Regions from separate parts of the Homo sapiens genome. Here all the other regions are reported to be linked to region 1. Evidence: microRNA targets listed by miRTarBase, many of them from high-throughput screens and not tested one by one. Region 1 holds a microRNA gene; each other region holds the end of a gene's coding sequence. Distances are between the middles of the regions.
What was found. The annotated mature microRNA hsa-miR-6734-3p reads CCCUUCCCUCACUCUUCUCUCAG and lies in region 1 at 1,714-1,736, shown strand. An mRNA with a match to its seed (bases 2 to 7 or 8) in the 3' UTR can be bound and repressed. Matches are read on the target gene's strand: a 7mer-m8 pairs with bases 2 to 8, a 7mer-A1 pairs with bases 2 to 7 and ends in A, and an 8mer does both.

Region 2: miRTarBase lists TMCC2 as a target of hsa-miR-6734-3p. The part of its 3' UTR that is shown has no 7-base or 8-base seed match.
Region 3: the mRNA of CCDC174 is a reported target of hsa-miR-6734-3p. Seed matches in the 3' UTR shown: 8mer at 2,531-2,538.
Region 4: miRTarBase lists VASH2 as a target of hsa-miR-6734-3p. Seed matches in the 3' UTR shown: 7mer-A1 at 2,945-2,951.
Region 5: miRTarBase lists BAHD1 as a target of hsa-miR-6734-3p. Seed matches in the 3' UTR shown: 8mer at 1,695-1,702, 7mer-m8 at 2,971-2,977 and 7mer-A1 at 3,381-3,387.
Region 6: the mRNA of EPX is a reported target of hsa-miR-6734-3p. Seed matches in the 3' UTR shown: 7mer-m8 at 1,016-1,022.

Annotation. Positions count from the first base shown.
Region 1 is chr1:43,362,071-43,366,383 of GRCh38, reverse strand. MIR6734 (microRNA 6734) reads left to right here and starts at 1,669; the gene lies at 1,669-1,736. It overlaps CDC20 (cell division cycle 20), which reads right to left. Exons shown (of 11, transcript NM_001255.3): 10 at 4,072-4,189; 11 at 3,181-3,433. The coding sequence ends at 3,255. ELOVL1 (ELOVL fatty acid elongase 1) reads left to right here. Exons shown (of 8, transcript NM_022821.4): 2 at 761-820; 3 at 1,008-1,198; 4 at 1,376-1,456; 5 at 1,590-1,646; 6 at 1,737-1,842; 7 at 1,924-2,060; 8 at 2,247-2,983. The coding sequence starts at 775. The coding sequence ends at 2,468. RefSeq lists a silencer at 1-73.
Region 2 is chr1:205,270,675-205,275,891 of GRCh38, forward strand. It overlaps TMCC2 (transmembrane and coiled-coil domain family 2), which reads left to right. Exons shown (of 5, transcript NM_014858.4): 4 at 446-581; 5 at 1,139-2,669. The coding sequence ends at 1,450. Among named protein-coding and RNA genes, the nearest start is that of TMCC2-AS1, 36 kb to the left of the region's middle. RefSeq lists enhancers at 1,039-1,183, 3,386-3,967, 3,968-4,550, 5,159-5,217, a cis regulatory region at 1,111 and a silencer at 2,847-3,141.
Region 3 is chr3:14,669,717-14,674,903 of GRCh38, forward strand. It overlaps CCDC174 (coiled-coil domain containing 174), which reads left to right. Exons shown (of 11, transcript NM_016474.5): 10 at 218-370; 11 at 1,180-2,939. The coding sequence ends at 1,478. Among named protein-coding and RNA genes, the nearest start is that of C3orf20, 2.8 kb to the right of the region's middle. RefSeq lists enhancers at 1,268-2,467, 2,402-2,611, 3,937-3,986.
Region 4 is chr1:212,987,108-212,992,308 of GRCh38, forward strand. VASH2 (vasohibin 2) reads left to right here. Exons shown (of 8, transcript NM_001301056.2): 8 at 1,405-4,478. The coding sequence ends at 1,477. It overlaps ANGEL2 (angel homolog 2), which reads right to left. Exons shown (of 9, transcript NM_144567.5): 9 at 5,075-5,201. Among named protein-coding and RNA genes, the nearest start is that of ANGEL2, 26 kb to the right of the region's middle.
Region 5 is chr15:40,464,762-40,469,978 of GRCh38, forward strand. BAHD1 (bromo adjacent homology domain containing 1) reads left to right here. Exons shown (of 7, transcript NM_014952.5): 6 at 574-674; 7 at 1,180-3,475. The coding sequence ends at 1,369. Among named protein-coding and RNA genes, the nearest start is that of CHST14, 3.6 kb to the right of the region's middle.
Region 6 is chr17:58,203,756-58,207,919 of GRCh38, forward strand. It overlaps EPX (eosinophil peroxidase), which reads left to right. Exons shown (of 13, transcript NM_000502.6): 12 at 467-679; 13 at 981-1,419. The coding sequence ends at 668. It overlaps MKS1 (MKS transition zone complex subunit 1), which reads right to left. Exons shown (of 18, transcript NM_017777.4): 14 at 4,139-4,164; 15 at 3,330-3,463; 16 at 2,710-2,792; 17 at 2,528-2,625; 18 at 1,686-2,415. The coding sequence ends at 2,324. Among named protein-coding and RNA genes, the nearest start is that of EPX, 13 kb to the left of the region's middle.

The DNA of each region.
Region 1 (4,313 bases):
CCAGATCTAGTCAGACAGGTGGAGCCGCCGGGGCAGGAGTCTCAAAGAGCCAGGCTCCAGGAGAGGAAGGGCTCTGCGAGAGGAGAGAGGAGAGCGCTGGAGAGGAGAGGCTGGAGGTGAGAGTCCCAGGAAAGGCAGAGGAGAATCGTAGGGACATAAGTGTCCCAGCACAGGCAAGGAGGAATCCGAGGATAAGGTTCTGGAGGGACAGAAGGGCCCAGAGAGGTGAGAGTCCTGGCAGGGACAGGAGGGACCCTGGGGAGAAGAGAGTTCAGGAAGGGTCCAGAGGGATGGGAAGAGGAGAGGGCAGGAGAGGAGAGATTGAAGGGGAGAATCCCTGGAGAGAAGAAAGACCCAGAGCTGGGGAGGTGAGGGACTCGGGTGAGGAAGGGAGACGGAGTTCAAGAGCTCCCTGTTGGTGAGAAGGTAAGATTCTCCAGTAAGAGACCTGGAATTGAGAGTTATCTTGTGGAGGAAGAGGGGAAGGGAGGCCAGGAAGTAAAACTGTGGAGAGGAGAGGAGAGTAAGGTGTGGAGAGGAAGGGTGGAACAGCTCTTCCCAGGCAAGCAGGATGTGTGGGGAGCAGATGCCTCAACCAAACTGCCTCCTCCCCCTAGTTCCCAGTAATTCCTTCCTTTCACTGTTCTGTCCTTTCTGCAATGAGGCATTGCAGGTGTCTTGTCTGGTTCTGTGTCTTATCTCTGTGGGATGGGGGTGTGCAGTGGGATCTGTCTGACATCCGCCCTCTGTACCTCCCCAGAGTCCTTAGCCAGGATGGAGGCTGTTGTGAACTTGTACCAAGAGGTGATGAAGCACGCAGGTAAGACGCTATCCACCAGCCCTTTCCTTCCTTCTTTCCCGGGATCCCTGGATCTACGGCTGTCTTCTAATGGAGAGTTCCTATGAAACCCTTGATCCTGTGACCTGACCTCATGTCTGTAGACCCTTCAAATGAAGACCCTTCGAACCCTGTGACTCTTCCTGATTCCTTTGACCCTTATTCATAGATCCCCGGATCCAGGGCTACCCTCTGATGGGGTCCCCCTTGCTAATGACCTCCATTCTCCTGACCTACGTGTACTTCGTTCTCTCACTTGGGCCTCGCATCATGGCTAATCGGAAGCCCTTCCAGCTCCGTGGCTTCATGATTGTCTACAACTTCTCACTGGTGGCACTCTCCCTCTACATTGTCTATGAGGTGGGCCCCTGGGATGCCGGGCTTTAATTTCTGTCAGCAGGATAAGGAGCAGGCCATAGAGCCAGAGCATGGCATTTCTCCTTTCCAGAGAGGTTCAGATCCATGTCCTCAGCTAGCGAAGGGGAGGGATGGCTGGGAAGGGAGAACTCTGGTGGTCTAATCCACATCCCTTCCCAGTTCCTGATGTCGGGCTGGCTGAGCACCTATACCTGGCGCTGTGACCCTGTGGACTATTCCAACAGCCCTGAGGCACTTAGGGTAAGTAGGGGCTGGGGCTAGGTCATAAGCAACCTGGTAGATATGACCAGTTTGGGGCCTGTGCTCAAGGCCCAGTTTAGGGAGGCTCTTAGAATAGTGTATGAGGTCCTAAGGCTATCCCAACTTCTTGCAGATGGTTCGGGTGGCCTGGCTCTTCCTCTTCTCCAAGTTCATTGAGCTGATGGACACAGTGAGTAGTTATATGAGATGTGAGAACTTGAGGGGAGAATGAGGTGGAGAAGCCCAGGTTCTGAATCCCCTTCCCTCACTCTTCTCTCAGGTGATCTTTATTCTCCGAAAGAAAGACGGGCAGGTGACCTTCCTACATGTCTTCCATCACTCTGTGCTTCCCTGGAGCTGGTGGTGGGGGGTAAAGATTGCCCCGGGTGAGTGGTGAAGGCCACTATGGGAAAGGGTGGGCACCAGAGGCTGGACTCTGCTGACCCTGTCTTATTGTCCACTCACAGGAGGAATGGGCTCTTTCCATGCCATGATAAACTCTTCCGTGCATGTCATAATGTACCTGTACTACGGATTATCTGCCTTTGGCCCTGTGGCACAACCCTACCTTTGGTGGAAAAAGCACATGACAGCCATTCAGCTGGTGAGGGGCTTGGCCTGACTTACCTATAACCATCCCCCCACATTCCTAGCCTGGATCCTGCCTTTATCCAGTCTGTCTCACCTTTGACCCCATCTCTCCCTACTCAACGTTTGTCTCTTTCTCTACCCCCTCTTCCCCTCTAGTCCTCTCACTATTCCCTCTGACCCTGGTCTTTCTCTATCCTAGATCCAGTTTGTCCTGGTCTCACTGCACATCTCCCAGTACTACTTTATGTCCAGCTGTAACTACCAGTACCCAGTCATTATTCACCTCATCTGGATGTATGGCACCATCTTCTTCATGCTGTTCTCCAACTTCTGGTATCACTCTTATACCAAGGGCAAGCGGCTGCCCCGTGCACTTCAGCAAAATGGAGCTCCAGGTATTGCCAAGGTCAAGGCCAACTGAGAAGCATGGCCTAGATAGGCGCCCACCTAAGTGCCTCAGGACTGCACCTTAGGGCAGTGTCCGTCAGTGCCCTCTCCACCTACACCTGTGACCAAGGCTTATGTGGTCAGGACTGAGCAGGGGACTGGCCCTCCCCTCCCCACAGCTGCTCTACAGGGACCACGGCTTTGGTTCCTCACCCACTTCCCCCGGGCAGCTCCAGGGATGTGGCCTCATTGCTGTCTGCCACTCCAGAGCTGGGGGCTAAAAGGGCTGTACAGTTATTTCCCCCTCCCTGCCTTAAAACTTGGGAGAGGAGCACTCAGGGCTGGCCCCACAAAGGGTCTCGTGGCCTTTTTCCTCACACAGAAGAGGTCAGCAATAATGTCACTGTGGACCCAGTCTCACTCCTCCACCCCACACACTGAAGCAGTAGCTTCTGGGCCAAAGGTCAGGGTGGGCGGGGGCCTGGGAATACAGCCTGTGGAGGCTGCTTACTCAACTTGTGTCTTAATTAAAAGTGACAGAGGAAACCACGGAGGCTGTGTGTATACGTATGTGAACAGAGGAGGTGGGGGAACACAACACGCTTAGCCCTGTCCACAAACAAGAGGGATGGATGGTCCAGGCTCCCACAGGACATATCTAGCTCTCTGATCCCAGTAGAGTAGAGCCCCTAGGAAGGCTGCTGGGACATAGGTCATGAAAGAAGAAAGGCATTAGCTGAAACAGATTTAAAAAAAAAACATGAAGGGAGACATGACTTTATTAGAAAAATAAAAAACAACTGAGGTGATGGGTTGGTCTTCAGCGGATGCCTTGGTGGATGAGGCTGCTTTTGGCTGCACTGGCCTTCTCCCGCTCCCGCCGCCGCGCAGGGTCCAACTCAAAACAGCGCCATAGCCTCAGGGTCTCATCTGCTGCTGCGGATGCCACTGTGGCCCCATCTGGGCTCATGGTCAGACTCAGGACCCGGGATGTGTGACCTGGAGCAAATGAGAACAGTACATACGAATGCTGATGCAGCCATAGCCATAAAGGAGGCACTGGGCCACCCACCTACCTTTTTGTTTTTTTTGAGACTTGCTCTGTCACCCAGGCTGGAGTGCAGTGGCGCAATCTTGGCTCACTGCAAGCTCCGCCTCCTGGGTTCATGCCATTTTCCTGCCTCAGCCTCCCGAGTAGCTGGGACTACAGGTGCTTGCCACCACGCCTGGCTAATTTTTTGTGTTTTTTAGTAGAGACAGGGCTTCACCATGTTAGCCAGGATTGTCTCTATCTCCTGACCTCATGATCTGCCCGCCTCAGCCTCCCAAAGTGCTGGGATTACAGGCGTGAGCCACCGTGCCTGGCCTCCTCCCTTTTTTTTCAATGGTGTTACTGAGATATAATTCACACACCATAAAATGCATCCTTTTAAAGTGTACAGTTTAGTGATTTTTAGTATATTCACAAAATTGTACAACTGTTAAAACTAATTCTAAGACATTTTCAACATTTCCCATTACCCTCTCTCAGCCCCTGGCAACCATTAATGTGTTTTTTCTCTGGATTTGCTTATTCTGGACATTTCAGTCATACATTATGTGGCCTTTTATGTCCGGCTTTTCACCTAGCCACTTACCTTTGAGTTCAGCCACCTTGGCCATGGTTGGGTACTTCCAAATAACTAGCTGGTTCTGTGCAAAGCCATGGCCTGAGATGAGCTCCTTGTAATGGGGAGACCAGAGGATGGAGCACACCTGTGGAGAGGAGCTGGTGTGGGCATGACATATAGCCAAGGCTACTTAAATCAGAACTGAGCCCATTCTAGTGTTAGGCACCCTGCCACATGCTCCAGACTCAGAGTTGAATGATCATAGTCCA
Region 2 (5,217 bases), 160 Mb from region 1:
TCAGAGCCGGGATTGTGTCCTCTACACCCATGTGTCCCTGGTACCCAGAGAGCATCTGAGCCTAGGGCTTAAGAGCCCAGGTTGAAGTCAGCCAATCCTTAACTCCTCCATTCATGAGCTGCGTGATCCTAGGCAGGCTCCTCAGCCTCCACGCCTCAGTCTTCTCCTCTGTAAAATGGAGATGACACTGGCACCTATCTCATGGGATTGTGGGGAGGATCCTATGAGGTCATGTAGGTAAAATGCTTAGCACAGTGCCTACACCTAAGAAGTGCTGTGTAAATAGTAGCTTCTATTGTTGTTGCTGTTAAAATTAGAACAGAGCAGAGCTGGACACGGGGGATGGGCTGAGTCATTGTTTATTGAGAGAATGAATGAATCAACTGTGGGAGAGAGTGGAAGCTCGGGGAGCCAGGACTGGTGTCACTCTCTCTCCCTCCGCCAGGTACGAGCGGCTGGAGGAGCAGCTCAACGACCTGACTGAGCTTCATCAGAACGAGATGACGAACCTGAAGCAGGAGCTGGCCAGCATGGAGGAGAAGGTGGCCTACCAGTCCTATGAGAGGGCACGGGACATCCAGGTATGGCCAGGGCAACCTTGGGAGGCCCCAGATGTGCTGGTAGAGCTGGCAGCAGCCAGAGGGTTAGGGTTCTTGTCACGTGGGGCATGATAGACACAGGCTGGCCTGTTGGCCGGGGCCGATAGGCACATGGATGAAGAGGGCAGCGTAGCGGGAGCGGAGTGGAGTGAGCAAGACAGGCCTGAGGCTGACAGCGTGCACTGTGCAGAGGCAAGCCCACAGGGCAGAGGCCACCATGCCCCCCACCTCTTTGATGGCAGCTTCGCAAATGAGTATTTGGAGTTTCCAGGCTCCAGCCTGCCTCAAGAGGGAGCCAGCTGGGATTGGGCCAGCTCTTTTCCTTCCCTAGTAATCAAGACTCTCATTTCCTAGCATCCTCCCCAAAGAGTCATCCTTAAAGGTCTCTGACCCCAGTTGCAGCTGGTCAACCTCCACTCCTCCTGGCCTTTGGAGAGGAGACTTCGTTATAGGCACCTTCTCAGTGGGGTAGGTAGGTTTTCAGCCTAGGGGTCCTGCCCATCCTGAGCGCACACATGCCAGCCCCTCTGCCCCTGCAGGAGGCCGTGGAGTCCTGCCTGACCCGGGTCACCAAGCTGGAGCTGCAGCAGCAACAGCAGCAGGTGGTACAGCTGGAGGGCGTGGAGAATGCCAACGCGCGGGCGCTGCTGGGCAAGTTCATCAACGTGATCCTGGCGCTCATGGCCGTGCTGCTGGTGTTCGTGTCCACCATCGCCAACTTCATCACGCCCCTCATGAAGACACGCCTGCGCATCACCAGCACCACCCTCCTGGTCCTCGTCCTGTTCCTCCTCTGGAAGCACTGGGACTCCCTCACCTACCTCCTGGAGCACGTGTTGCTGCCCAGCTGAGTGGCCAGCCACACCAACCCTGTGCTCTCTGGCCCCCAGCTGGCCACACTTCTCCAGGAGGGACCCTTGGACTTCTTTGTGTGTCCAGTTTGGCCTCCTGCCCAAACTGTCCATTCCAGCAGCTCCTGCCCCCTTCTCTGTACTTGCTTCTGTCTGACACCTTCTCCCTGTTGGCCTGAAGGGAGCTTAGAATGCAGCCCTACCTGGAGATAGTGCGGGCACCTGTGGCCAAGTGGAGCAGAGGTGGACATGGGGTTGGATTGTTTTGATTATTTATAGTTACACAAGGACTTCTCCCAGCTGACCCTCAGGATGCCCCAAGTCAGGAAGACCATTAAGAATAGGAGGAGAGGGCTCTGCCTCAACTTTCCTAGGAAAGAGCCCACCTCGGAGATAGCTACGGTTTTCTCTGGTGGAGATGGTGAGGATGAAGGCTGGAGAGTGAGGGAGGAGGCTCTGCTGGCCGCAGAGAACACAGGGATGGGAGGGTCCCTAGCCTTCGGGCACCTCCAGGGCCAGAGAGCAGGCTCAGAGCAGCTAGTGTGGAGCTCAGCATCCCCACCCCACCCCTCCTCCCTGTAGAGCTGATTTGAGGCCTCCTTCTGGGGCTGGGCTCTGCAGGCCAGGTGGGTGTGGCCTGTGTTTTCCCTTCTGTTCTTTCTGCCTGTACTGGATCTGTTATTTTCAGGGAAACAGGCCCCAGGGCCCCCCTGAGCCTCACCCTAAGCCCTTAGGCCTCTGAGAGTGCTGTTGGGTTCTATTTATTTATTTATTTGTTCCTTTGTTCCCTACCCGTGCCCCCAGTGTCTTCCCTGCTGAGTACCAGGAGAGGTCCTGCCCCATCCTCTCTCTGAAGCCAGGGCCCTTCCATTCCATTTAGCCTTTGGATCATCCTGGCTGGGAGAAGTGGGACCGAGCCACCCAGCCCCACTATCCCCAAGCAGCCCTACAGCCGGGATGGGAGGCACGTGGCCTCTCTTTTATCCGTCTATTTATTTTGTAAGTGTATTCGTGTGGAGGAGGTTGTTGCTTTATTTTTTTAAGGCTCTGGAGTGTTGTGTATGGTTTCTTTTCACATCCCAGCCTCCCATGGGCACTTCTAAGAAGAGAGGGGATTTCTTGGAAAAGGAGAGAGGAATCCCCTAGAGCAGGGAAAGCAGTGCCTGCCAGCTGTTGTGCACCTTCCTGAGAAATAAATATCCTCTAAATTTTCAAACCATCCTGTCTGGTGTTGGTTGATTAGGTTGTGTCTGTGGGAACCACCACGTCTCTCCCCACACCCAAGCATTCTGGGTAACACAGGCTAGGCCTCTCCTGTTGACCTGAGGCCCTCTTCCTCCAGAATCCGACAAGGAACAAGGCATGGCCTAAGCGGTATGATAGAAGGGATGATATCCACCCCATCCAGGCCTCTTAGAGTCCAGGCAAAGGCAATTAGGAGAGAGATTTCCATAGCTCGGAGCAGGTGAGCCACCAGCGGCCTGAATGGCAGCAGCCATACCCAAGTGAGGCCACGAGAGGGCAGCAGAGTCCTTACGCTAACACTTTCTCCCGGTGCAGCCCCAAAGAAGGCAGCTGCTGGAGTTAGCTTGGTTTTCTCAGAGCCGTCAGCCAGAGCACAGAGCACCTGCTCTCCAGGTGCTGGAGCATGGGCTTGAGTGTAGTGACCAGGCCCTCTGTGGCTGCAGCACCCACTCCCGGCAGTTCACACAGATGGGCACCCTAGATGGCACTGCACTCCCAGCAGTAACCCTGTGGGGGTTTAGGAGAGGCCACCTGAATCTCCCTGCTGGGATGAAAAGATGCTGACTTCCAGCATCTGGAACAGGAGGGATGGTGGGAAATGCACCCACCCCAGAGACCTGGGTCCTGGCCCATAGTGAGTAGATGGCAGCCAACTCACATCTCTCTGCACCTCAGTCTCCACATCAGCGGTAGAGGATGTGCAGCAGCTCACTTCGAAGGGCTTGGACATTCTGCAGTTCTGTGGGTCTGACAAATCAGAAGTTGCCGCTGTACTTGTGGCCTCAGGCTTGAGGAGACAACAAGAGTCAGAGACAGTGCTGTCACCAGATTGGAGAGAAGGCTGTGCTGGTGCCACGGGGGGTGGCATTGGTGGCTCATCCTCACCCTCTGCACAATGTAAGAGTTTCACTAGGTGACCTTGCCGGGGCCTTCCAACAGTGTCATTCCTGGACCCTACACTCACCTCCCTTGGGGGCCACAGGTGTCCTAGAGCCCACATTCCTGGGCCCCAGGTGGGGGGTGGCTGCCCCAGGCTGCAGACATTTCCCACATTCCTCCCCAAGGTCAGGTGCCTTCCCTGAATTAAATGTCACTGCCAACAACAGCCCACACTGAAAGGGAGGAGGAAAAAGGGAGGGAGGGTGGCGGCCATGCTCAGCTGATCCTGAGACTGACAGCGAACAGAGGAGGTGGGGGAAGACCAGCCCCAGCTACACAGGGTCATCTGCAAAAAGGACAGAACACCAGCCTGTGTTTGCCTTATCATGACAACGTGTCTAATAAAGCCCTGCCTGTCTGGGACTCTGATGGTCACTGATGCTTCCTTGTTTGTGTTTGAGCCTTCTCGCCCTTTAGAAAAAAGGGGGTGCGGCCCGGCATGATGGCTTACGCCTGTAATCCCAACACTTTGGGAGGCCAAGGTGGGTGGATCACCGGAGGTCAGAAGTTCGAGACCAGCCTGACCAACATGGTGAAACCCCATCTCTACTTAAAATACAAAATTAGCCGGGCGTGGTGGCACATGCCTATAATCCCAGCTACTTGGGATGCTGAGGCAGGAGAATCACTTGAACCTGGGAGGCGGAGGTTGCAGTGAGCCAAGAGTGTGCCATTGCACTCCAGCCTGGGCGACAAGAGTGAAACTCTGTCTCAAATAAAAAAACAAAAAAAAAGAAGGAAAAAAGGGAGTGCATTGCCCCCACTTCAACCTGGCCTCCTTTGCTGGGGACCGTTCTTCAGAATGCAGGGCCAACAGGCAGGTCCTTCCCAGAGCATCTGTCATGCAGGTCCCAGCCCCTCACCTGAGGGTCCGGAGGTCTCAGCCAGGCTGGTATGCTCCCCTCAGCCTGGGTCCACTACAGAGGGAGTAGCTAAGAATTCATGTTGAAGTTGGCACGTTACTGCTCCAGCAGCACTGAGCAGGCAGGTGGCATGTTTACCATGCCCGTGCAGAGCTGGCACTCCCTGCCAACCTCATCAAAACTGTAGGGCTACAACAGGTGCAGCCCTGGCAAACAGCAAAGCAGGCAGACAGCACAGGCCAGCAGGAGGTGACTTAACCCCTGCCAGCACAGGTTACTCTGGAGTGGTTCTGAGCTATGGAGGGAGGGAAGGGAGGAGGAAAGACTTGGGGCCACAGGGTGGGAGAGGAGGGGAGCTGCAGCCTGGGCACCTGGAGGGATCTTCATGGCAGGTTCAATTTCCCTTTCAAAGCCAGGGCCCTTAAGTCAAGTCTGGATCCCAATATTAAGGAGCCAGCAGACCTAGGCTCAAACCCCAGTGCTGCCACTCACCTTGGACAGGGTTCCAGCTGCTCTCAGCCCAATCTCCTCATCTTCCAGGAGGAATGGAGATGACATGGCACTGGCTCACAGGCTTGGGTGCAGGAGACTTGACATTCTGCAGGTCAAGACTTAAGCACAAGGCCTAGAATATGATGGATTAACCCGAGACTGGACTTATTACTGCTCCTCTTTCCTGAGCCTGTAAGATATTAAGATGCAGAAGAACTCTTCAGGGAA
Region 3 (5,187 bases), not on the chromosome of region 1:
TAAAATGGGGATAATATGGAAGTATTGAATTTATTAGGATTGTTACAAGAATTAAATGACCTGTTGTATACAAAAGACTTAATCCACTGCCTGGGACATGTTAGGTACTTCATAAATACTGATGGTTACTTTTACTTTCAGGATTAGCATGTTCTGTATTTTTAAAAATAGCTTTAGGCTTTTTTATAACAGTGTCTTATTCTTTTACAAAAAATAGATGGAGATGTTATTGGGCCTTTGCCACCGGAGCCAGAGGCTGTGCCAACCCCACGTCCTGCTGCCCAGAGTAGCAAAGTAGAAGTCATTGTCCAGGAGAGGAAGGACACCAAGCCTGGAGTGCCACACATCCGGGAGTGGGACCGCGGAAAAGGTAAGGGAGGTGGGCTCTGAGGTGTAAGAACTCTCCAGTGAATGGAAAATGGTTTTTTTTCTAGAAGCACTTGGGGTAAGTTTTAACTTCGTGCTGCCTTGTGTGGTTTTACAGCTTTGGAATGCCATTTCTCAGGACCTGCCTTTAAAGTATTATGAAAGTTTGGTGTTCTCATATGCTCTGTTTTTAGCAGCCTCTTTTATGTTCAGTTGAAAATGGTCTACATGCCAGTGTACTAACCTGGATTCACACATGGTTCCATTGGGGAATTTCCCTGGACATTTTTTCTGTAAATTCTCCAGAGTGTCCACAGCAGCCTCTCTGGAAGACTATGGTTTATGCCTCTTTGAAAAAGATCATTTCAGTAGAACATTAGCCCATGCTGTCTGAGCTGATAAGATCCAAAGCTAAAGTAAGAGAAATGCAAGAGCCACTGTTAGAAATAGAGATGAAATACCAGACAAGGTTGGACAGTTCCCTTTTGTGTCTTCCAAAACTCAATAACGGACAAAATTTGTATTTTGGTATGAAATACCTACAATGTCATGTCAAGCAGATAATTTGTCTGTATTTCTCTTTTTCTGTATTTCCCCATCTAGAGATAGTCACTCCCTTTTCTTAGCCTGGTCTTTTATACTCGTTGTAGGTATTACTTATACCTTGTAATATAGTTTTGCTGTTGCCATTCTTATTCTTTGGATAATTTGTGGTGGCTTTTAAGAAATATATGATACAATTAGATAATAGTAACAATAAATTCAACTGATTCGTTAATCAGTTCTAATAACTTTCTTTCTTATTTTTACCAGAATTTTCCTTTGGATACTGGTCGAAGAGGCAGTCAGATCTCCGGGCTGAGAGAGATCCTGAGTTTGCCCCGCCGTCAGATTACTTTGTGGGTCAGAAGAGAACTGGTTTTTCCAGCAGCCAGGCATGGAGCAGACCTGGGCCAGCACAGAGTGACCCAGGGCAGTGCCCTGACCAGAGCCACGGACCTAGCCCTGAACATACGTCACCCACTCCTGCCCCCGACAACCCACCACAAGCCCCCACAGTTACTTTCAAAACTCTGGATGACATGATTTCCTATTACAAACAAGTGACATGATCTTTCAAAGCACGCTGACTTGGGTTTGTACTTTGACAGTGCCTTTCTCTCCCAGAGGGAGAAATAACTTTAGGAACTGAATTGTACCTTTGTCCTGTCCTTTCCCTAGGAGGCACAGACTTCGGGTTGGATTTGTCAGCAAGGAGGAAAGTTATGGAAACTTTGGCCACTTGGCTGTTCATTTTATTCTAAGTGGGATAGGGACATACCTACCTGGATTTACATGTGAGCTGCGATAGAATAGAAGTATTTATTCTGTAAAATTAGACACTGAGATGTGCTTATAACCCTGTTTCATATCTACTCCCACGACTTACTCATATTTAAGGGTTCTTTTCCATTCCTTTTGCAAATCCGAGCATGCAGGTGTCTTTATTCCAAGGGTTCAGCTTCCAGATCAGCCGATGGACCATAGGTCACGAGGAATTTCTCCCTGTCAAGCAGTGGAAAACTGCATGGGAGGCAAAATGCTCTGTTCTCCAAGAGGACCCGGAAGTAATCACATAGGAAATGATAAGGAAGACCAGGAGGAGCTCTTCGTAGTCCAGAAAGGTAGAAGTGGGAGTTGTTTACTTAATTTTACTGTCATACCATGCTATTACCTACACTCCTGTGTGCAGTGGGCATTCAGTAAATGTGTGTTGAAGGACTGGGACGTACGTGGAGGCTGCTGGACCTGGTCAGAGACTGATGTGCCTTAGCGGCAATGGTTAGAGCTTTTCAGTGCATCCCACCTCCCTGTCGCCCCCATGCTCGGCTTCCTCACATTCAGGAGCCTGACTTGGATCAGACTTGGGGCTGCACAGTGGAGCAGGTGGGTTCCCGTGTCATTAGTAATAAGGAGAGGGTTGGGGGTGGGCAGGGCTCCAGAAAGTCAGCAGTGTGCCTGGGCACCCACCCCATCCTCTACCTGCCACACCTCAGAGGGTTCCTACAGCTGCACACAAGCAGTTGAGAGTTGATGACCAGGCCCATAGGGCTCCCACAGCTGGTTCCCAGGCCAGTGAGTGCTGTGAGAATACAGTAGCACAAGTCCTTGTTCTCTGAAGAGTGGGAAGGAGAGGAGTGAGTGAAGTAGCCTGTCCCCTGCAGGTCCTCTGCGATGGCATTGTCTCGGTTCCCGCAGTGCTGCAGTGTGGAAGGGAGTGCCCCATCCTCATTACAGATGACACACTGGAGTGTGGAGGGGTCGATGACTTGTGCAGGGTCATATGGTACCTAAGGGGCAGATCTCAGACTTAAACACAATTGATGTCTAACCCCTAGACAGTCTTTTTAGTGCCCTCTGCTCTCAGTCTTGTTGCCCTAGTATCAAGCAATCTTAGACAAACATCCTGAATTCTTACAAACTTACCTCTAAACTCTGAGGATAAAGTTGCCAGTCCTTTTAATGGTCAGCCTAATCATTCTGTCAGCCTAATCGGGTAATTGCTTTTTTTAATAAATACACATAAAAACCAACTAACCCAGCTGCCTTTTTTGCAGAAATTGACAAGCTAATCTTAAAATTCACATGGAAATGCAAGGAACCCAGAATAGTCAAAACAATCTAGAGAAAAAACAAAGAGGACTCACACTTCCTGATTTCAAGATTGACCACAAAGCTACGATAATCTACACAGTGTGGTAGTGGCATAAGAATAGACACATAGATCAGTGGAATAGAGGCGAGAGTCCAGAAATAAAACATATATCCGTGGTCAATTGATTTTTGACAGTGGTGCCAGGACCATCCAGTGGGGAAAGAGCAGTCTTTTCAACAAATGGTTCTGGGACAAGTGAATATTCCATGCAAAAGAATGGGTTTGGACTTCTGCCTCACACCACATACAAAAAATCAACTCACGATGAATCAAAGACCTAAATGTAAGAGCTAAAACTACAAAACCTACTGAAACAGCTTGTAGGATAAAGAGGGAGGAGACAAAAAGAAAAATTGGAATACTAAAAAGAAAAATAGAATTATTAGACATGCTAGAATCATAGGAAAAATAGAAAAAAGAAAGGGTAGAAAGAAAACAGCTGGGCACGGTGGCTCACGCCTGTAATCCCAGCACTTTGGGAGGCCAAGGCGGGCGGATCACGAGGTCAGGAGATCGAGACCATCCTGGCTAACACGGTGAAACCCTGTCTCTACTAAAAATACAAAAAATTAGCCAGGCGTGGTGGCAGGTGCCTGTGGTCCCAGCTACTCAGGAGGCTGAGGCAGGAGAATGGCATGAACCCAGGAGGCGGAGCTTGCAGTAAGCCAAGATCGCGCCACTGCACTCTAGCCTGGGCAACAAGAGCAAGGCTGTGTCTCAAAAAAAAAAAAAAAAACAATGAATAGACAAAGAAAGATGGAAAGAGGATGTGTGTGTAACCCAGAGCAGAAGGACTTGAGGCTGACTGTGGAGTAGAAAGGAGAAGGGAGACAGAGACAAGGCAGGCAGCAGGAAGAGCTGTAGGTGTGGGAGCCAGCATCACAAAGGGTCCATCCCAGGTGACCACATCCATGCCTGCAGCACCCGGGTGGACGGCGAAGCAGTTATGCTCGTTGGCTCATGGTCACTGTTATCTGAAGATAACTGTGAGTCACATTTTCTCTGGGATTTCAAAAACTAAATAAACCTATTTATAATCCCCTCTTAACAGTATAATTTAGTTCAGTGTTTTGTGAGCCCTTTTCTGTTTCAGATCCAGTTCTTTGAGTATTGACACACCATCACAGTCTTACTGTGACACGGGCCTGTCTTGTACCAGTGTATCCAGCAGATGGCATTAGAATTCTTAAATGTCAGCTCCATACTCTTAAAACAGCACACTCCAACAGAAATAAAAAATAAATCTGTGGCGCATGCCTGTAATCCCAGCTACTTGGGAGGCTGAGGCAGGAGAATCGCTGGAGCCTGGGAGGTGGAGGTTGCCGTGAGCTGAGATTGCGCCATTGCACTTCAGCCTGGGCAACGAGTGAAACTCCGTCTCAAAATTAAAAAAAAAAAAATAAGCCCAGAGTGTCATTTTCAATTTTCTAGCAACCATATTTAAAAAGTGAAATTATAACATATTTTATTTAACTCAGCATATCCAAAATATTTCAATATGTACTCAATATATGCAAATTATTAGTGAGATCTAAAATTATTCTTCACACTAAGAATTCAAAACTCACTGTGTATCTGGTTATAGCATAATTTGGATGCTAACGTTTCATCAGGAATACTTGATCTGTATTTAGATTTTGTAAAATATGCAGTTGAAAAACACAAATTCATATCCAAGTTGTTCCAAAGATAGTTAAACATAGTAAAGTTTTTCAGTAACTGAATTGAACATCAAGTTTGAAAAAATAAAACCCAGTTCCTTAGTCATGCTAACCTTATTTCAGGTGCTCAAAGGGCCCATGCATCTAGTGCTGCTGTCCTGGACAGAGCGGCTCTAAGTGATCTGCTTTTACACGCTTTATGGTCCGACTATACATAATCCTCCCATTAGTAACTAAAGTATTGGCCAATAAATTTTTCCCAGGCATACATTAAACATTCACAATACTCTGTGGCCATGTTTAACTTGGGAGCAAGTAGTGGCAAAACCTCCTATACAAAAACGTGACCACACCTCATTCATGCCTTTGTAGAGCTAAGCAAAATGCTTTAGATCAAAAATTGCCTTGAATTATTTACGTTCATTGTAATCTCTCCTCTAGGCCTTTGTGTGTTTTGATAGAGTT
Region 4 (5,201 bases), 170 Mb from region 1:
CTTTAGCTAGAAGCTAGCTGTTGATTTCTAGTTCTATCAACATTGAATTAGTTGGACCACTTTTATGCCAGGGAAAAACCATTAGCTGTTAGGAAATCTTTCAAGGGCATAAAATAAGAAACCTTCTAACAATTATATTTTCTTTTTGGTCTTTTTTTTTTTTTTTAATACTTAAGAACAAGGTTCGGCTGGGTGCGGTGGCTCACACCTGTAATCCCAGCACTTTGGGAGACCGAGGCAGGCAGATCACCTGAGGTCAGGAGTTCGAGACCAGCCTGACCAACATGGTGAAACCCCATGTCTACAAAAATACAAAATTGGCCAGGTGTGGTGGCACATGCCTGTAATCCCAGCTACTCAGGAGGGTGAGGCAGGAGAATCACTTGAACTGGGGAGGCAGAGGTTGCAGTGAGCCAAGATTGTGCCACGGCACTCTAGCCTGGGCAACAAGGGCGAAACTCCGTCTCAAAAACAAAAACAAAAACAAAACAAAAACAAGGTTTATGTGTAACCTAAACATGTCTTTTTCTTGCAAAAATGGATGTGAAACTTTTGAATTAGAACTCACTAGCCATACTGAATATCCTAAACTTGATTCATGATCTCAGTTCTCTCTTATCCAAGGTGAGAAGAGGCTCATTAAGAAATGGAAAAGTTGTAAGATACATTGTGAGATTGTTTAGGCATAATCGTATATTGGAAGTCATTTAGGACGCATCTTTAATGAAGACAGATGATGTGCTATTGATGTGAATGTTGTATTTCCCAGCTTGAAGTACTTTCTCACATGACTTTGCATAATTGCTTAGTTGTAGTTTTATGTTGGAAGTGACTTTAGCACGTTTCTAGGGAAGAGATGTTTTGCCACTGAGTGATTTTCCACACTGACATGCTTTTTCAGATGAATCCTAAGATTCACCTTGATTTTATACATTCAAGCCTGAACATTAACCGCTCCCTGGGAACGTGAGTCACCTTTGATTCCTGGGCTTCCTCCAGGACACGAACACTAGGAAGCCAATGTTTCAAGGAGAATTTGACTCAGATTCTTGGCTCTACTGTAGTGTATGTGACTTTTAGACCCTTGCAAGGTTCAAGAGTACTGGGTTTCAAAAGCTATAATGTGACCAAAGTCAGGCTTAAAGCTGCAGAAGCTCATTCCACACCCTGAAAACTTTTCTGAACTCTACATTGAAAGTCTGTTAAAATGTTCCTTAAAACCTTTAAAGGTGGACTTAAGAACAAGAAGTAGAGTTGTGAGCTAAGGCTGGCAGGGTGGGGGAATGGGAGGATGAGACAAATATCAGAAGGATTAGGAAAACCGAGTAGAGGACCTTGAAAATGCTGTTGTCTTTCTTTGCCCCATCCCCTCTCCTCCACCATATTTCTGTCTTTTACCCTTAGGCCTGCACTGCCTGAAAAGAAGGTGGCTGATCTGAGCACTCTGAATGAAGTGGGCTATCAAATCCGAATTTAGCCAAGCCATACCGGCCAGCAAGAGGGTTTCTGTGGTGCTTCTCTCTGCACTTTACCCAGCATCTTCAGGAGGAACTGCAACTATTTATTAAGAACTTGTGAATTTTATTTTTAAGGATTCACCTGGAAATAGAATCTGAGTGGGTGGTAACCATTAGCTTTAAAAAATTCACTAAAAGGCACCATGAAAAGGCTGAAGTAATAAGCCCCACTGGGGTTGGACTATGTCCCTCACTCAAGATCTTAAGGATAACCGTAACTGAAGTTTTATATTTTTCCATTTACCTACTTTCTTTTACTTGCTTTGAACATTATGCCTCACCAATAGTAAATGTTCATGAAATAATCTCTTGAACTTTTGGTATAGTAAGGTAACTCTAACAGTATTACTGTCTTTTTCAGCAATAACAGAAAGCAAAAATGGGTGGGTTTTTTTTAAGCAGTTATTACCTCAGCATTTTGACATCAGATATGCAAACTTAATGGCGTTTTGTTTTTTTATATTCTATTTGTATTCTTTCCCCAGTATTTCCCATGGGGATCTCCACAAGTTTGGAGTTTTTTCCTGGTGCACACACGTGAGGAGATTTAAGGTACTATATGCAAGTGTTTTACTAAAAAGCACTGAAATTCTTCTGGCAATACAAGAACCATTTTCAGGATCTTGGAGTTACTTCCTTCTTAATCTTTCTTAAAGCATTCACTGATGTTTTTGTTTTTTCAAAATGAAACAAAAATATCACATTGAGAAGCTAGTCTATGTTCTGTCACTAACATTTAAACTTTGCAGACTCTAACAAAAAGCACAAGAGGTCACGTACTATTATACAAATTTAGCGGTACTGGATTTACCTCTGACATTAACACACTCAGGCAGAGACCAGGAGTGATCAGCAGGTCTTCAGAACCAAAAAACCTTTCTGTTCACATTTCATCTGATTTTTAAACTGAGGCAGGCTTTGATTCTTCTGAAGGATGCCAAGAATCAAACTAAGGGAGGACTCACTGTTAAAGATGTGTTCTGATGTCTTATATTAAGACCAAATGTGACATGATGTGATTATCTTCCAGTACTTTGCTTTTAGGTACCATTTCATGACATTTTAGGAATGAGTATTGGAAAATATAAAGAATTAGAAAAGCAGCACTTTTTTTTTAATGGAAAAGTCTTCGGTCCAGTGTTACACCTTATAGTGTAATTCAGTCCCTAAGCACAGAATGAATGTCTGGCCTGCATATGGTAGTTACAGTGTAACCTCTGGCTGCAGACCACACAGGACAACCCTAACAGCCTAGTCTTGTATGGTGTAAATATCAAGAGTACAGCTTCAATTTCATTTGCTTTATCTTAGCAACAATGCCAACTCAGGAGAGCAGACGGCCGATTTCAGTGAAGTCTGGTAGTCAACAGATGTTATTTCAGTCTCAGTGCATCTCCTCTGGCTTTCTTTGACTGAAGGTGTTTATAGGAAGGAAGTTAAAAAAAAAAAAAGCTCATTGAGATTCTTTACCAATTCTTTACAAGATTTCTGGGGGTGACAGGGAAAGCAAAAGGACTTCAAAGCAAAAGGGTGCACAAGAGCTTACTTCACCCTGAAAATCAGTATTATTAATGAAAAGTACTGTTTTCTTAAAGAAGTCGAATGTCCTTTAGATGAACAAGACCAAGTATACATCTCCATTAGATTAAAATGTAGCACAGGGTTAAAAATTATCAGTTTAATCTCTTTAAGAACAGTATTATCAGAGTTTAAAATGAGTTAGCTCTGTTTATCTACACACAGCAAACCCATTCGCAGCCTCTTGGCCACATGTATTCAGATGTTTGAAATAGTGAATCATTTCATTTTCATTCTAAAACAATACTGACTTAGCCATATACCTTCTGTTTGTCAATCTGAAACTTGCTTACATCTAATAAGTAGACCTCTTATAACACTGCAACCATTCTAAGAGTTGGAATTTATTTTTGCCAAGTATTAAGTACTGTTACATCTAAAATACAGAATGTCAAATGGTTGCATAGCTTGTTTCCCACAACAAGGAGGAAAAGAACAGGAATACAAACTCTGTAATATGCTGATAAAGAAGCCTTAGAACTGCCAACTGGCTTGATGGTTCAATTAGTAAGCTAATTTCTCCCACACCCGCTCCTTGATTTTTAGACTAATTTTCCCAAAGCAAGGTTTAGTCACACAAACTTGAAAGTACATTTAAAATGTTCTTAGTTGTCATCCTACTTTTATTGCCTATGGAATATGCTAATTTCTAAAAAAAATACGGGAGAGGCACCAAACCCCTAAATTCTAGTGCAATAATTTAAAAAACAAAAAACAAAACAAAACAAAAAACATGTTATATGCACCCCCCTCCCAAAGCTGATTTTAAGACTGGCTAGAATTCAAAATATAAAAAATAAAACTATGAAGTGATTTGAAATCGGTTTTAAAAAGTTGTTAGTGCAAGAGAAATTTTATGTTTAAGCCATCATGGCAATATATGCAAAGTTTAAATGAATGACAGAAATCTTGATTTTAGACTGTATGTTGTGCTGTTTTGAGTACACTTTATTTCGGAGATATTTAGTATTTTCTATACACTCTGAAATCATGAGCATTTCACTTTTTCTAAGTCAATTATTTCATAAGGATTTTATTAATAGATATTGGTAAATAGAACTTTGGAAATCTTAATTCAGAATTCTTACTATACCTGAGTCTTTTGTAAGCTATAGTTTTATGTACAACCTTGTACAGTTTTTTTGACATACAATTCAGAACTTTGTTTATTCTCTTGGACTTTGTTCTGGCCAATACATTTTTTTTAAATCTTTAAGAAGAACTGTGATTGTTTTAGTGGGTATTTTTCTAATTAAATGAAAACTTGTATAATGGTATTTTAGAGAATGCCAGTAAGTGCATGTTTCAAGTTAATGTTTTTCTCATCACTTGTATGTTTCTAACACAGCATGGGACTTTAATAAAACCATCCTGGAAACTTAAGGATTGTTTTTCTTCTAAATATGTAAGATGTGGCCGGGCTCAGTGGCTCAAGCCTGTAATCCCGGCACTATGGGAGGCCAAGGCGGGTGGATCACCTGAGGTCAGGAGTTCGAGACCAGCCTGACCAACATGGTGAAACCCTGTCTCTACTAAAAATACAAAAAATTAGCCGGGCATGGTGGCGGGCGCCTGTAATCCCAGGTATTTGGGAGGCTGAAGCAGAAGAATCGCTTGAACTTGGGAGGCGGAGGTTGCAGTGAGCTGAGATCCCGCCAATGTACTCCAGCCTGGGCAACAGTGCAAGACTCAGTCTCAAAAAAAAAAAAAGTAAGATGGTGTGATTTTTTTTTTTGGTCCTCTTATTATATATTTATTCTACTGAACCTATTTATCGTTCTTTCACCCTTCTTTCACAATCTGCAGACTCTATATTAAAAACACTCTATCACTCTATTTTGACATATCTCAATTCACTCATCTTTTAGCATCACCCCTAAGTAAAAATGGCTGCAAAGGGCAATGAAATAGTTTAGTAAAGGCAACAGTACAGCTTATACATCTCAGTATACCTACCACAAAACCTTCAGGCACAGAAGTACGAGTATAATAGTTTATTACCTAACTTACAGGTACAAAGTGCAAATGACTTGACGCCTCTCTTTCCCCAATCCCTTGAACTCTCTGGATCTCAAACTTTCTTTAGGAAAGCAAAGGTTAAAAGCA
Region 5 (5,217 bases), not on the chromosome of region 1:
CTTAAAAAGAGGAACAGAAAGGGAACCCTTGAGGTAGCAGGTGCCAATGGGAGCAAGTGGATGTGTTCCCCTGGAAACAGGAAAGGTGAGGTGGAGCTGCATACCTGGTCACTTTTGGTATTTTCTGTAGTAGGGGAGGGGAGGGGAGGAAAGACTCCTCCTAACACCCCATAGGCTCTCCACCAAGCTGTGTGCTAAAAGAGGTGACTGCCATCTGTGTGTGCCCTGGGCTCACCTTTTATTTCACTTTCCCTTGCAGGGACTTTCCATCTAACTGGAAAGATGAAGAACATTTCCCCTCTCCTACGCTAGGCAGGGCTGGGGTTTGGGAGGTCAGTGACAATCAGGGGCTAGAGCAGATACCTGGCTATTCTGGAGAAGGGGGGGACCTAGAAGGGACTCAGGAGGAATGCCTGGAGGCAGTAGGTGAGGCATACTTAGGCTGAATTTCCAGGGAAGCTTGCTGGAGTCATCTCAGGTCAGCAGGCCCAGCAGAGGGGTTAATGTCTGCCTTGCTCTGGGAATGAGGTGCTTTCCAGCCCTGGTAACAACCTCCACCTGTCTCCCTTTGAGCCCTTGCAGAATGAAGTGTTTGCATCGCGACATCAGGACCAGAACAGTGTGGCCTGCATTGAGGAGAAGTGCTATGTGCTGACTTTTGCCGAGTACTGCAGGTAGGTGGTTCCCTGCACCCTCTGGCTGGCCTCTTCCCTCAGGCTCCCCAGGCATATTTGGGGCTGCTTGGAATTCCCCGAGAGGATCTCATTCTGCTCTCTACCTGATCTTACTCACTGAGCCTAATCTCCCAGAACTTACTTCCCTATTGCTTGCCTCTACCATCTGATATTTTTTGGAAGAAAGAAGAAAAATTGTGTTGCCACACTGAGGTAGAATGGTTGGAGCAGAGTTGGGGGGTAACATTACTGCTCTTGGAAAAAATTTAGGCGAATTGGCAGGCAAATGGAGAGAGGCCCTGGCAAGTGTGGTTCTCCAGTGACAGAGAAGATAGCCTGGTGGTTGGCAGAGCAGACATCATCCCTGGGATGGGTGGAGACAGTACCACCCCTTGGGGAGCTAGGATAGCCTAGCTCTCTGGGTCGGGTAGGGTAGGGTAGGGAAGGAATTGGTCTTCCTGCAAAAGTGGCTGGAGTAAAGACAGTGAATGGTATCTCTCTACAGGTTCTGTGCCATGGCCAAGCGCCGAGGTGAAGGCCTCCCCAGCCGAAAGACAGCACTGGTTCCCCCCTCTGCAGACTATTCCACCCCACCCCACCGCACAGTGCCAGAGGACACGGACCCTGAGCTGGTGTTCCTTTGCCGCCATGTCTATGACTTCCGCCACGGGCGCATCCTTAAGAACCCCCAGTAGCCTCCTCATGCCCATGCTGGGGCTACCCATGGGCAAGTGGGGCTCGGGGTAGGGGGCACTGCTTGAAGCACAGCACTTGGTTAGGGGGCCACAGAGGCCTAAGTTTGCTGGCCTGTGGTTTTCTTGGGGGGGAGGGCAGGGGCCCCTGTGGGTTCTGGGCTCCAGGGGAGGGAGCTGGGGAGGCCAGGGTATAAGAAAAGCATCAGAACTCTCAGCTTGGCCCAAGGTACCTTCTGTGGTTCCCCTGGGTGGAGATTTCCGAAAAGTAGTCTTCTCTGAGGCTGGGCCAAGCCTGAGGGAAATGGGGCCCTAGGAGGGTGGGGGCGGGAAGGAGGGGCAAGGTCTTTCAGGAACCAGACCCAACAGGCCCTTCTGTAGCCTCCCCCTTGCCCTCAAAGGGGGAGTGGGGGCCAGCTTTACCTCACCCACTGTGACCCGCCGCTTCCCCTTCAGCCTGGGACCAGGCTTTCCTAGATCCCAGCACAGCTCTGAGCTTGTTCCTTTGAGGCATAGAGAGCCAGAGTCTGGCTTCCAGAGCATTGACTTCCTCTTCCTAGACTTGAGGCCTTTTCTCTGGCTTTCCTCCTTTGCCCTGCAGTAGCAACTGGTGCTGGGACAAGTTGACCCACCTCTCACAGTCATGGGTGTGGCCCACTTGTGGGAGTCTCCTGTCCACCTCCCAGAGACGGCCACCCAGCGGGTCTGGCTTCCCAGAAAGTTAACTGATGATTGTGGGGTTTGTCATATCTGGGAGGGAAGATGGGTGCTGGGAGAGGGTTGGGGGCAGGGGGCAAGGAAAATTGCTACCTGATTTGTTGAAGATTTTTCCTCTTGCCTTACACATGGAGGTTCCAGGAAACCTCTTGCAGAACTTCACACGTGATTCTTCAAGCCACACCCACCTGAAATCAAACCAAAGGAGTGCTGTGGCTCCCCTTGCCCTGCCACCCTTTCCCTAGTCTTTTGTAGATTGCACTAATTTACATCCTAGCAAGAATCAACACTGTATCAGTCCACGGACCTGCTGAGCTGCAGCCACTTGCTCTAGGAGCTAAGGACTTGCATTTTCAGTTTGTTCCTGTTGCCCAGAGGCCCTGTTCTCACCTCATGCTGCTCCCCAGAGTAGACTAACAGGCTCAGTCCCCTGTTGTCCTTGTGGAGACTAGGCCTTGGCCCTGGCCCTGAGACTCTGTGAGGGGGCTGGAGCAGCCTGGTTATTTCCTATCTGTACCAAAGAGGAGTATGGTGGGAGAGGGAGTGGAGTGCAGTGTGGCTTGGGCCTGGTGCTGGGAACCTGCTAGCTGAGCACTTCCACAAGGGCATACCCCTGGGGGCAGGGGCTGGGGCTGAGAACTGCAGCCCTGGGTCTTCCCTTAGGGAGGAAGGGCAGATGAACCCAGCAGGCTTAGGAGGTGGCACTGGGTGAGGACAGCTGGGCAGGGGCTGCAGAGGGAGGTGGAAATGAACCCTGAGGGCTCCCCCAACTTGCCATGCCCTGTCCCTTAGTAGATGAGTTGCTCCTGATTGGTCATTGGGTTTGGGTGAGGCCTGGAGGCTTCAGAGGTGAATTTATGCTTGGGAAGCCTGATCCCAAACCTGAAGGGAAGGGACTTGGATCTCCTTATATTGAATAAGCTGTTTGGAGGAAGGTGTCTGTCTGGGAGGATGGGGCAGTAAATGAGGTTGGCAGAGTGGCAGTGGGGGCTCTGCAGAGCCAGCCTTGGAGCCTGCTCATTCTGGGCCCTTGCTGCCAAGGAGCCCAGCCTCACCTAGCAGGAAAGGAGATGAAGGCCCTCCTCCCAGGAGGTAGGGTCTTGGCTGCCCCGAACTTAAATGCTTTTGAAATCTCTTAGATGTGGAAATATTTTTTCGAACCTGAAAATGCAGCTGGTAGAATTTCAATGGAAGCATAATCCATGTAAAATATATTTTAGTTGATATTTTGTAAAATGCACTTTTTGTGTGTGTTGATCCTGGTTTCCCAGATCTGTATTTCAGTGTTTACAAGGGAGGAAGGACCTTTCCTCACCTCCCTTTTGACAGAGATTAGAAGTACTTCTTTAAGAAAAAAATAAATTTGAGAAATTGTATTGATTTAGAAAAGGATCGTTTCCTGTGTGTCCTGTCATCTTTTGGTGTGTGGGTGTGGAGAGACCCACTATTCTTATTTCAGAGGTCCCTCTTAACCCCTGTGGCATGGATGCTCACCAAGGCCAATGAGCAAAGAGGGCAGGGAAGCAGAGGGAAAAGAGAGTGAGGGAAGGAGACAGAGGGACTGGGAACTTGGAGTTGACTTCTTGATTTCATGGTGGCCACAGCTGCCTGCTTAGGTCTGTGTGAAATACTTCAGTTGCCAGCCCTCACCTGACCAGTGACCTGGAAATTGGTCCCCAAGTAGGTACATGGCAAAGATACCTTCTTATCACTGGCCTCATGCAGTGGCTCCTGCCTGTAATCCCAGTGCTTTGGGAGGCAGAGGCAGGAGGGTTACTTGAGCCTAGGAGTTTAAGACCAGCCTAGGCAACATAGACCATGTCTCTCGAAAAATTTAAAAATTAGCCCGGCATGTCAGTGCATGCCTATAGTCTCAGTCAGGAGGCTAAGGTAGGAGGATTGCTTGATCCCAAGAGCACGAGGCTGCAGTGAGCCGTGATCATACCACTGCAGCCTGGGTGACAGAGTGAGATCCTGTCTCAGAAAAGAAAAAAAAAGCATCCCTCCTCATCACCTTGGGTAACTGGCCAGCACTGTCCTAGGGCCTCAGTGTCTTGCAGCTGGTGCTTCTTGCTTGCTGAGGAAGGCCACATCATGGGGCCAAGGGTCTGCGGCCAGCTGACCCCTGCTTCAGCCCAGCCCTGGTCCCAGCCTGGAAGCCTCAGTGTTGACCATGTTCCAGGTGGGGCAGCTCTAAGGCCATAGAGGTTCCTGGGAGCCACAGCACCCCCCCGCCCCGCCTCCACTTCTGCATTTTGCTAAGGCATGGTGCATGTGGGCAGGAACATTTTTTCAGAATTTATTGGTGGCACAGACACCACCATGGATTTTTCTAGCTCTGCCTTCAGTGTGGTGTCCACAAGACTCCCTTGAGGCGAGTGGTAGCTTGTCCTTATCTTACAGACAAGAAATTGGTATGGAGATAAGTACCAGGCCCAAGGACTCCCCCTGCCTCACCCTGACTGCTAACACAGAAAACTACCCTGTAACACAGAAGGGAGCACATGTGGCCACATTATCAAAAGATTTTTAAAGGTCTAAGGCCTTTTTTTCCTCTCCTGGTTTAAAGGACATACTTACTGGAAAATATGATTTTAATAGAAAATCCTATCACCAGAAATGTATACCTTTAGGATTATTGGAAGCAAGGAGCAGTGTAGACAAGGCAGAACCTTCACGCAAACTTCTGGTGCAGCAAATGGACAGGTGGTAGCCTGCAGATGCACTGGGGCAATCAGATGTGGAGAGCCTGCCCTGGAGAGCTGGAAGGCTGCAAGGCTTTACCGTTCCTTCCCCTGGCTCATCTGTGTGCTTTTCCTGTTGCTGGGATTGTGGGGTCATCAGTGAGCCCTCTAGTATCACCTCATCCCTCAAGTCCCCTCACCCTTCTGAATTCATCTGATCACTGGTAGCTCCATTCTCCCACTGGTATCTTCTATTTTCCATCACCTGCTCTGTACAGTCCGCCCTCGAGTCAGCTGCTTCCTCCCTTCTAGCCATTCCATGATATGCTCCTTTAATCTCTGAAGGGCCGTGATTAGAAATTTAGGTTTTAGACTCAGAACCACCCATACTGAGTCACATCTTCCCTGAGCCTCTGTTACTTCAGCTGTACAAAGGGAATGTCCACACTA
Region 6 (4,164 bases), not on the chromosome of region 1:
CCCCGTCTCTACTAAAAATACAAAAAATTAGCCGGGCGTAGTGGCGGGCGCCTGTAGTCCCGGCTACTTGGGAGGCTGAGGCAGGAGAATGGCGTGAACCCGGGAGGCGGAGCTTGCAGTGAGCCGAGATCCTGCCACTGCACTCCAGCCTGGGCGACAGAGCGAGACTCCGTCTCAAAAAAAAAAAAAAAAAAAAAAAAAAAAAAAAAAAAAAAGACCTGTCTCCTTATTTGGAGTTGGTATTGCCCGAGTTCAAATCCAGCCCTGGCCACTTAAATTACTGTGCACTTAATACTGGGCAATTTATTTGGCCACTGAATTTGTTTCATTTCTGAGATTCCAATCTTGCAGGAATTTTGTGAGAATTGAATGGAATAATATATGTAAAGTACCTGGCACACAACAGGTGCTCATTATAAGGTAATTCCTCCCCAGCCTTCACCCACATCTCTCGACTGCCTGGTAGGTTCTGGTGGCAGAAACGAGGTGTTTTCACCAAAAGACAGCGCAAGGCCCTGAGCAGAATTTCCTTGTCTCGAATTATATGTGACAATACCGGTATCACCACGGTTTCAAGGGACATCTTCAGAGCCAACATCTACCCTCGGGGCTTTGTGAACTGCAGCCGTATCCCCAGGTTGAACCTATCAGCCTGGCGAGGGACATGAGGCTTCTGCAGGTAAGGGGAGGCCACCTCCAGCACCCTGGGCTGGGTTAAGCCCTCACATCCTTCCCTGGATGGATGGCTGAGTCCTCTTAGGTCTCTAAGCAGAGAAAACAGAACTTGTCACTAGGTACTCTTTCCAAGTGGCTTCCCAATGTGCTAGTTTCTGGGCTGACAGTCAATTCCAGGCCCTAGGACTTTGGGGGGAAATTAGGAGCATCCAACTATCCTCAGCTTGGTCACTAATACCTGAAAACAGCTCCATTTCTAAACATCCAGTAAATTCCTGACTTATCCAGTTCTGTTACTTCCACAGGAGTCTATCCCAAGTCTCCAACTTTTGGAGACAAGGGGAAGGGGAGGACCATGAGGCTGCCTTGTCTCCCTGGAGCAAGTGCAGGCTGCTGACGCTTCTGCTGGCTACAGCTCAGAGCTGGGTTCCCCAGCCAGGAGTGAAGGCTGGGGGCTCCTATCAGCAATGGACCTTCCCGCCTTGGGAGCCTCTTAGGTATTAGGCTATGAATCAGCGCCACGTGCAAAGGCTTGGGAGCCAAGCCATGTGGTCTTGCACCCCAGGCAAGAAAAGTCAGCTGGAGGGTTTACAGCACTTTCTACTGTTTCCCAGCCCTCCCTCCCCTCCCTCACCATGACTAAGAGACCACTCGGTCCTAGCCTCCAGACACCCCACAATACTCCTCTGAGCCTGAGGCCAGGCAGCATGCTCTGCTTCTACCAATAAAGCACTGCTAAGGGCAGGGGCTGCTGTTTCTGTGTTGGGCTAGGGAAGACGTGGCCTCAGTTCCATGCTTTGCTCCAGATGTTTAAGAGAAGTGCTGTTAACACGCAAGCTGGCACAACCATCTAAGCCTCTCCTGGGGGCTGAATTAGGAGAGCCCAAAGAAACACTGTGGAGTAGGGAAAGGCAGAAAAGGGGAAGGGCAGACATGGTAGGGGCCCCGACATTAAGAACACCCTAGCCATACCAGCAACCTGAGCAGACAAACAGCCAACAGAACATCAGTCAAAATAAAAGGGGTTTATGTAACAAAAAACAAAAAAACAAACAAACAAAAAAACACAGTAAAAGATACCACCCAGCTAGCAGAAAGGACTCAGCACTGCCTTCAGCCTTCACTTACTCAGAAATAACTCATATCTCAACCTCAGCAAGCCCCAAGCAGTAGAATGAGGCTTCCCTGGAAAGAGGCTGAGACTCACAGGCTGGGGATTTAAGACCCTCTCACCGTCCACCTTCCTTCCTTCTTTGGTCTTGGAAGATGAAAGGCTCCATTTTTAAAGGGTGGAGAACAGCAGATCCCCTGCTACTGTGAGACAAGCCAGAAAAGTGAGTCAAGGCCAGACTCACTATGGGGTCACCCCAAACAGCTTCAGATCAAAAAGCCTGCCTTGCTGTGATGCCCATTGACAGTGGCTGCAAATATAAAGGGGGGGCCACAGGGTCTCTGGCTTTATTTCCACAGGGTAGGGAGAAGACCCTGCAGAAGGCTAGGCAGAGGGGCCAGCCGGGAATTTCCCAGCTTTTCTGGTTCTCAGCAGACCAACGTGGTCTCTAATCAGAAAGACGAAGAGGCAGGAGAGCACTGGCCTCAGATATCCCCCATCTTGTCCTCTTGCACTGTGGGCCAGGGCTGCTGTGAGCTAGGAGACCAGGGTTCCAGAGGGGCTCACTAGGTCCTGCGGGAGGCTTTCCCGGGCCTCCTGCATGCGGCGCCGGGCTCGACGGAAGGCCTCTGTAAGGAAAGGAGATATGCTATTTGGCTGCCATATGGTATTTCTCTCTGCACTGCAGAGAGAAACAGGCCCATGCTGACCTGGGGTGGCCAGCTGGGGGAGGGGACATACCTAGCACATTGTGAATGGAACTCTGCTGGCTGAACCCTTCCAGACGGTCCAACACACTCCGCATCCTTTTCTGAAGGGAGCTCGATTCCATGAAGGCCCTGCAGGGAGGCCAGCCACATGGTTACGGCTGTCTCCACCCCTCAGGGCTAAGGTGCCCTGAGGCAGAGGGCCAAGTCACTCACCTGGACTGCTGCAGACAGTGCAAGCGGAAGGTGACAGTGCCTGTGGTCTCTGTGCGGAGTCCAAAGCGGCTCAGGCGTTCCCCCTGTGGCATGCCATTGGGACAGCCTCAGGTTTCTGCTCTCTCTAGACACCCCCGCACCATGCTGGCCTCACCCCCATTCTTATTCCCATTCTTGGGAAGCGCAGTTCTGTTGGGGAAACCTTATTCCATCACCCAGACTCTATTACCTCAAGGCTAATACTGGGCTATTGGGCTCCCCCAACTAAACCAGGGAACATTCCAACCTCATTTGAGAAGCGGCGGTCTTATATGCTTACTGTGAATCCTCCCCACATCTGATTACTGAGGCCTTCAGTGATGGGGGAAAGAGCCAGTTATTCTGATGGGAACCAGGGGAAATCTCTAATTATACTATTTTCCAGAGACCTCCTACGATAGCAGTGTAGATATTGGAACCTGATTCAAAATGTGGTCATGACTTCCAGCTTAAGCCACAGGAAGGAAGGGGTTAATACTGAAGCAATGCACAACTAAGGGGTCTTGACCCAGATCCCACCTCCTACAGAAGGACAGGACCATAAGTTCTCAGCGTGAAGTCACTCCAAAGACAAAAGTCACCTTGAAGGATCCTGGTATCCGTACATAGGAGAGGTCCTCCAGTTCCAGAGAACCGCCAATGAAAAACCTCCTCAGCTCAGCCACCGTGCCAAGCTCCACAGGTCTCCACGTGGAGACTGTCAGGGTGTGTGAGCCTGCGCAAGGGAAGAGAAGACTGGGGCCAGGTCCAGAAAGGGCATGTGGCCCCTCACTGACTCCCCAGCAATGACACAGGCCTAGACTCAGCTAAAACACCTGGTCTGGTGATGACCTGGCCTCTGGTGCAGGTTATCATGGTTACCCATAGCACCTGTATGGAAATCAATCAGGGAGAAATTCAAATTTCCGCTCTGCCAGTTATTACCTGCATACCCAGGACAGGTTTCTTAACCTCTCTGAAGCTCATTCTCCTCATCTAGTAAAATGGAAATAATACCACCTGCACCTCACAGAGTGACTGGGAGAATTAAGTGAGAAGTATGGCACAATGCCTGGCACACAGTAAAAGACAGATGCTTTTATTCCAAACTGAATGCTGATTCATTCAATACACATATGCTATGAGCCAATTTTGCCATACAGCTTCTCACCCTGAGTCCAATCAGAGGAGCATGAAGCACATGGAGAGACTGTCAGGAAGTCAGTGCCAAGGCCACGTCATTGTCGCTAATGGAGGGGGGCAGAAAGTCCTCAGAGGAACAGGAACTCTTTCAAGCCAAACATTTCCAATTCCCAATTATCTCCACCCCTCACCAGAAGCATTCGAGTGTTAGTCTTGTTCTTAGGGCCTAGGGCATGTGGGCCACAGAAGGGCAGAGACGAGCGGTTACCTGGAGTGGCAGGCAGCACCACAGCC